Homo sapiens: one gene and its partner. The protein of the gene in region 2 purifies or fractionates together with the protein of the main gene of each other region. This does not show direct contact. Each region holds a gene or a part of one and is shown on either strand. Other genes may lie near its edges.

Region 1 (3,500 bases), on a different chromosome or scaffold from region 2:
CTCCTCAGGTCTAGGTTCAGCCTGTAGCCGTTGGCGGAGCTCAGCCAGCCGTCCCAAAAGAGCAGTCACATCTTCAGAGGCCAGAGCCTGCCTGGCGCGGCCTTGCCAGCTGATGGCCCTCTCTGTGAGGCACTGCAGGGCCTCGCCCTCGGGCAGCCGCACAGGCAGTCTCTGCAGGGCTACCAGCAGTGCCAGGATGGTCTCCAGGCGCGGGCGCCTTGAGCGCATACACAGTGGACACAGGAATTTGGTGTCCCATTCCCACCAGGCCAGCAGTGGGGATGAGGTGGGATTGGGCCTCGGAGAGCTGAGGAGGCGAGGCACTGACACACACCGCCCATGGAACCAGTCCTGACACAGGTCACACTGCAGAGCTCCCGCCCCAGCCAGCACCTGCCCACACACACAGATAGAGGTTGTAGAGGAGGCCGTGCTCGATGATGCCAGTGGACTGGGCTTGGCCGAATTGGTGCGACGCAGCTGCAGGATACCCTCCTTCTCCTTCTGTTCCCCCTCCTTGAAGGCCACGATCTGCCATACCCAGGACAGGAGCAAAGTGGGTCAGCAGCCTACCCCTTCCCTTCTCTGGGCCCCCCCTTAACACCCCCACTCCCAAACCAGGAGAACTGAGGCTCAGGGGACAAGCGGTCTGCTCATGGCCACCCAGCTCAGACACTCTATCATCACCAAGCCCTTCTCCCCATCTGTGTCGAAGCTCCTTACCACAGAGCCTGGGTCCCTGAGGTCCTGCGCAGACAGCCCCAGCAGCTCTGTGTCAGATTTGTACAACCCCAGCTCCTTCTCCATCCACCGGCTGCGCTTGGTGCTGTCTGAGCCGGCATCTGCACATGGGCAGAGAACCTGGGGCAGGCAGACAAGAGAGGGAATGACTGGGCTTCCCTTACATCCCCCGCCTCCTTCCCTCCCTGGTGCCCCTACAAAACCCATGTTATCTCATGAGCCATCTCACAGAAGCCAGGGCAGGCGTTAAGAGACGCTGTAGGTCAAGGTCCCAGGCCTCACCTCCAGCAGCGTGTAGCAAGAATTTTTCTTGAGGAAGGTCTTGGAGGCCTTCTCCCTCCAGGAGTGCGCTGTCAGTACCTGTAGCTCTAGCTGTCTCAGCTCCTCCAGCCCCACAGGTAGGTCCCGGCCCACAGCTACTAGGCCCTCCAAGTCATCCAGGCAGGGGTAGTGGTCACCATTCTAAGGCCAAGGGCGAGAGACAGCTCAGTTCAACTTGCCAATGCTATTGATGCTTACTCTGTGCCTGGCCCTGAGCTGGAAAGATGAACTGGGCTCAGTCTTGAGGGATTAAAAAAATAGGTGTCATCCTAAGGAACAACCACTTGGCTCTCTCCCACAACACCGGCATCTACTGACTGGCTCAGCCCCAAATATCTAGTCAGCCTTCTGTTGTGGTTTGCCTCTTCTCCTCTCCTCCATGCCCCTGCCCTGCTCAGTCCCATACCACCTGCTTCCCTGGCCCACCAATCTCATCCTAACCAGTGCCCTCTCTTCCTTCAGGCCAGCCTCACACTCTTCCTCTCACCCTGCTCATCAGGCACATCTTGCCTCCTGACTACATGCCATGCCCCCTTCCTCTCTCCAGCCAACCCAACCCATCCCAGCAACCCAGCACATCCCAGTGTATATGCCATCTCTTCCCAGCTGGACTGAAGGCCTGGGGTGGGAGTGGCAGGGTCCTCACTTGGATCTCATCAACATCAGCAATCCAGGCCCGGGCCTTAGCAAGAGCCTCCTTGAGAGCCTGGATGTTGGGCAGGTGAACAGGGATGTTTTCCGCTTCACGGATTATGGCCTCAAGTGTGGCTGGTGGATGCTTCTGCCTAAAGGTAAGGAAAAAAAGAACGCTCAGTCTGATGTGGTCTGCCTGACCAGAAGCCCAGCCTGACCACCAGATATATCTGCATGGGCCCCTTGGGTGTCTGTTATTCCTGCTGTCACTTGGGCCTACTTGCTTGTATTCCACCTAAGGGTAGCTGCCAGTCCCTGCTTCCCCAAGACTGCATGCACCCAACTTCATCCCTTCTGCCACAGCTCTTGCACCTCTGTTTGTCTGCCAGTCTGCTGGCCTGCTAGCAATGCCTACATATACAACCTGTATTGTGTAATCTGTTGCTGCAGTTTGTCAACTGCCCTGTGTGGGGTCTTTCTACCAACATCTGCCCATCTGCCTGTCACTTGTGCTTCTGGGTATGCGCACATTAGCCTGTAGGGCTAGTCTTCTAGATAATCTCTATCTGTCCATTTCTGCTTCTCCATCAGCCTCTCTTTGCCTTTAAGTATACAGAGTTGTTTTTTAAAAAAACGACAAGATAGACAACAAAAGAGGGGAGAGTCAATACAGTAACACAGGAGCGTGATACCTAAGGCCACCCATGGGCATCCTCTTCTGGGTCTCCACTCAACTTTGATGTTTGGAATAGGGCAGGGAAGGGAAGCAGCAGCTGGACCTACCTGGCCTCCAGGCAGAGGTGGGCTTTCTCCTCCCAGCGTTCAGCAATGGTCAGCAGTTCCTGCAGCTCGGCCTGGGCTTTATCCACAGCAGGGCTAGGGGCTACACTGGCACCCGCGACCAACAGTCCTCGCATGACAGCCAAGGTGCCCCTTCGGGCTGAGGGGGCCAGTGTGCGTTTCACCTCATCCAGCCATCGCGCCTGTTCCACCTGCCGCTGGAGCTGCTGGGCCTCAGGCACCTCCACCCCCAGCTGCCGCCCCCTCTCCAACAGGGACTGCAGTAGCCCTGGACTGGAGGGCAGTGAGGCCAGGGCCTCACGAGCCTCAGCCTGGTAGGCCTCCACCTGTTCCAGAACACCCTACCAGGACACAGGATGAAGAACAAACTCCTCAGCTGGGCCCACTGAGGGGTTCCACCACCAGATGGAACCTTGTCCCACCTATCTTCTTACCCTCCAAGCTTTTGGGGCAAAGGAGCCTAACATGGGCTGAGCTCTCCTTCTCCAAGCCCTAAGACAGTTGGGGTTCCTAACACTGACTGCTCATTAGAATGCCCTGGGGAATTTAAGAATGCAGATTCCTGGGCCCCACCCTGAGAGATTCTTAATTAACTAATAATTATTAATCTATGCTTTATTTAACTTTTCAGAGGGCTCTGTTCTCAGGGCACCAAGAGACCTCCCTGCCCTAAAAATTGCTATGATTAGTCCTCACATAAACCCTTGTGCTCACCACCCTGGGGTCTGTTGCCCTCTCCATCTCACTCCTCCTCCACCTTCATGAATTTCCCTCCACTTTCCAAGCCCAACAAGCACCCCTGTTACCTCCTTCTCCTCTACCCCTCCTCCAGGAAACCTTACCTGGACTCTGTATCCTATACCCATACCCTTGCCACCTGACCCTCAAGGCCCATTTCTAACAGACAAGTCACTAGACCCTTGCCTCACCCCTCCCACCTGTTCTTTTCTCACACGTGTGTCCTGTCTTGCCTGAACACTTTAAGCTTTTGAAAGGAGCCAAGC
Region 2 (3,500 bases):
GATCTGGATAAACGCACAAGGGTTGGTAAGGACCCTGTTTAGAGTGTGAATTGGAGAAACTGAGGCAGAGTCCAGTGGCCTGGCCAAGGACACGCAGCCAATGAGAACCAACCTCTCCCAACAATGCAAATGAGCCAGGAGCAGCACTGGACCTCCATGTCTTCTCTAAGCTTTGCAGACCCTCTCCCTGGTGAACTTGGAGTTCCTTCCTAACCTTTAATTCCCTGAGCCACCAGTGCTAGCTCTGCCAATGGAGACTGAAGGAGGGTCTATAAGATGATGTCAAGGAGGGACAAGGTGGGGGATAGAACCTAGGTGACCCTCTTCCCTGGGGAAAATGCCAGAGGTTAGAGGACCATGGGATCTCCATGCTCCCCCTCCATGGGGCCTTGGCCACTCCCTTCCTCCCCCTTGCCCCGTTGGGAGCTCTTGGCCTCTCTTTGGGCAGAGTGCTCCAGTCCACATCCTACCAGACCCTTGACCCCGGGCTTCAGGAAACAGAAGCCTAGAGAACCTCAGCATGTGACCCCTCCCTGGGCCCCAGCTCCTTAGAGGAAAATTCTGCCTCCCACGCCACCATTCACACTCTCTCCAGGAAGAACTTCCTCATAGCAGCCACCCAGAGCTTGGGCTGCAGTGCAGTGCAGACAATAGTCCTTGCCTGGCACTCGATCGGCTTTTTCTTTCCCTTTTTGTGGGTTTTATTATTTTTGTTACAGGTGGGGCTGCCAGGGATGGGTTATGCCTGCAGGGGGAGAAATGATCAGAAGAGCCACAATTCTACCCTCAACCCAGGGAATGTGAGCTTTTACTGCCTCCATTTTCTTAACCAGAAATCTGGTTTAGTTTTGCTTTCAGGGCTCTTGTCATTGGAAAAAGATTAGTGCTCAGAACCTGCAGCCCAGAAATGGCCCAGTCCCATCCCTCCAGGCAGGCTCTGCTCCTCAAGCTGCGTGGGGAAATGCCATCATGGGCTTGTGCCCAGCATCCACCCTGCCAATGATGACAACAGTGATAATCGAGGCATTCATACCAACCACCATTTAGGGAGCCTTTATAGAGACTTCCCCCCAACAGTGGCCTCTTTGGCAGCTCTGGGAGACAGCCTTGGAAAGGGCGAACTAAGGGCCGAGAGAAGCAGCAACTTGCGAAGGTCACTACTGGCCAGACTGGGCCCAGTCTCCTGCCTCTTCCCACAGTGGCTGCACACCCTACTCTCTACCCCATTGCAGTAGGAAGAGAACTCCAGAATAAGGGGAGGCTCTGAACAGTGGAGTCAGGATCCGTGTTTTGACTAGTTTCAAGGTCTAGTAAAGCACAGTATCCAAGGAGGCTCAGTCCAGCATGGGCATGGGCTAGGGCTGGAGAAGTAGAAAAGAAATTTGGGCAAGTAGTGAATAAGACTGCCAAATCTATTGTTAGGAGAGCCAGGAGAGGTGTCCTAGTGGTGCCTTAGTCTATGGGAGAGACCCAGACACCATTCTGCTGGGTTCCCAAGCTGGCACCTTAAATTTAGTAGCTGATGAATCCAAGGAGCCCCCAAGCATCATCTGGCATGTTTTTTTGTATGTTTGTTTGTTTGTTTTTTGAGACAGAGTCTCTCTCTGTTACCCAGGCTGGAGTGTAGTGACGTGATCTTGGCTCACCACAATGTCCGCCTCCCAGGTTCAAGTGATTCTCTTGCCTCAGCCTCCTGAGTAGCTGGGACTACAGGCACGTGCCACCACACCTGGCTAAGTTTTGTATTTTTAGTAGAGATGGGTTTCACCATGTTGGCCAGGATGGTCTCGATCTCCTGACCTTGTGATCTACCAGCCTTGGCCTCCCAAAGTGCTGCGATTATAGGTGTGAGCCACCACACCCGGCCCATCTGGCATGTTTTATACCAACTGGAGTCAGGCCTAGAGCAGGGAGGTGGCTAGACAGTGACTGTAACCTCCATTTCCTGTCCTGGCCAAACCAATACTCAGATGGGACAGTGAGAGGAGACATCACACTCTGGTTACACACCATTAACCCCTGTCTGACTACACACACACACACACACAGCCGTCCAGATTCACAAATACGTTCTTATCACCCCCTTCATCCCTCAGTGCCTGGGTGGAGGCCCTTAAGCAGGAATGCCCCCTCAGAGGAGAGGGTGGGAGTGGAATGATGGGATTTCAGAATCCCCTCACCTCACCCTCTCACCTCCAGATCCTAGTCCAGATGTAATCCTGTCCTCACCACTTTGCGTGCACGTGCACGCACACACACATGCACACACACAGTCTCAACATTCACATACAGACACCCACTCTTGACACCCACACATGAACTAAAAGACAAACGTTGGTCCATAAAGGAACACACATGCTATCTACATACCCCCAACCCTGCCCAGTGATGCTTTCCCCAGCACTACTGCACAGATCCCAGACAATACAGACACACAGGCACTCCTTGCACACTGAGTCCTAGGCCACTTGGTTGAGCTGCCCCCACCCCACCCCAGCTGCACACTCTTCTACATCCATCCCATAAAGGAAGAGTCCGTCTCTTTAACCATGCTTCTCATGGTTTTCAGAGTACCCTTGCCCCAAATGCTGCCAACCTCCCCCTAGACTCAAGATCTTCTCTTTCCAGATCGCTGGAGGCTCAATGCCAGTGCACAGGAGGAGATCGCCTTCCACCATATTCCCTGACTCCCAGAGGCTCTTTCTAGGGCAGGGGTCTGGCCAGGAAGACTGAAGCCATGACGTCTTCCTGTGCAAGGATAGGAAAGATGTCTGTGGGTTGGAGGGTAGTTATAGGGAAGCAGCTTTCTCCACTTTTTGAGAAAGCACTTGGGAACAAGCATCCCTCTCAGGAAGTGATTCTCCACCATTCTCCTCTGATCCTATAGGCCTGGTGGTCCAAGCCTCAGGCCAGTTGATGCCTCCCACTGGGATCAGCAGACAAGGCCATGACCCTGCAGTGACCTCGACCCCATAATCAGGTCAGGTCCGGGCTTCATGGCTAGAAGCGAGGCCCAGGCGAGTGGCCAAGACGCGGCAGGACAGGAGGATGCGCCTGGCTGCTCTCGGCTGCTGGACGCGGCCTGCAGTAGGGAGAGCGCAGCCCGGGGTAATCCCACTCAGGGCTCCGGGTGCCCAGTTCTCCCACTTCCCATCCTGGCGGCCTAAAGGCAAGGCCTAGACCCTGGAGAGGCCAAAGTCGGGCCAAAACAACAGCGAAGCTGGGACTGGAACAGGCGCTGGGGGCCTGCGCATGACCCCAGGCTCAGAATGCGACACTCCAGTGACGCCGGGGAATGAGTTGAGATGGAGCCGGAGACAGAGGTTGGGGTTCAGGACGAGGCGCTTGGGTATGGGATCGGATCTGAGACGGTTGCGGCGCTGGTGCTTTGGGCTGGACCAGACTCGAACCCAGAGCGGAGCGAGGGTCAGAGCCAGGGCAAGAGTCCGAAGCCCAGCTCAGCGTCCAGCCCGCGAGAGACCCCACCATGAATGACGTCC

The links.
Region 1: the proteins of LHX6 (region 2) and KDM5C purify together in Homo sapiens (affinity purification with mass spectrometry; 3 studies listed by BioGRID and IntAct, with this or other methods). This does not show direct contact.

Annotation. Positions count from the first base shown.
Region 1 is NC_000023.11:53,194,208-53,197,707, forward strand, and holds part of KDM5C (lysine-specific demethylase 5C), read right to left. Parts: intron 2,838-3,500; coding exon 2,479-2,837; intron 1,848-2,478; coding exon 1,709-1,847; intron 1,282-1,708; exon of another isoform or gene 1,204-1,281; coding exon 1,024-1,203; intron 862-1,023; coding exon 724-861; intron 532-723; coding exon 1-531. UniProt on the Homo sapiens protein: Histone demethylase that specifically demethylates 'Lys-4' of histone H3, thereby playing a central role in histone code. Does not demethylate histone H3 'Lys-9', H3 'Lys-27', H3 'Lys-36', H3 'Lys-79' or H4 'Lys-20'.
Region 2 is NC_000009.12:122,222,458-122,225,957, forward strand, and holds part of LHX6 (LIM/homeobox protein Lhx6), read right to left. Parts: intron 1-3,500. UniProt on the Homo sapiens protein: Probable transcription factor required for the expression of a subset of genes involved in interneurons migration and development.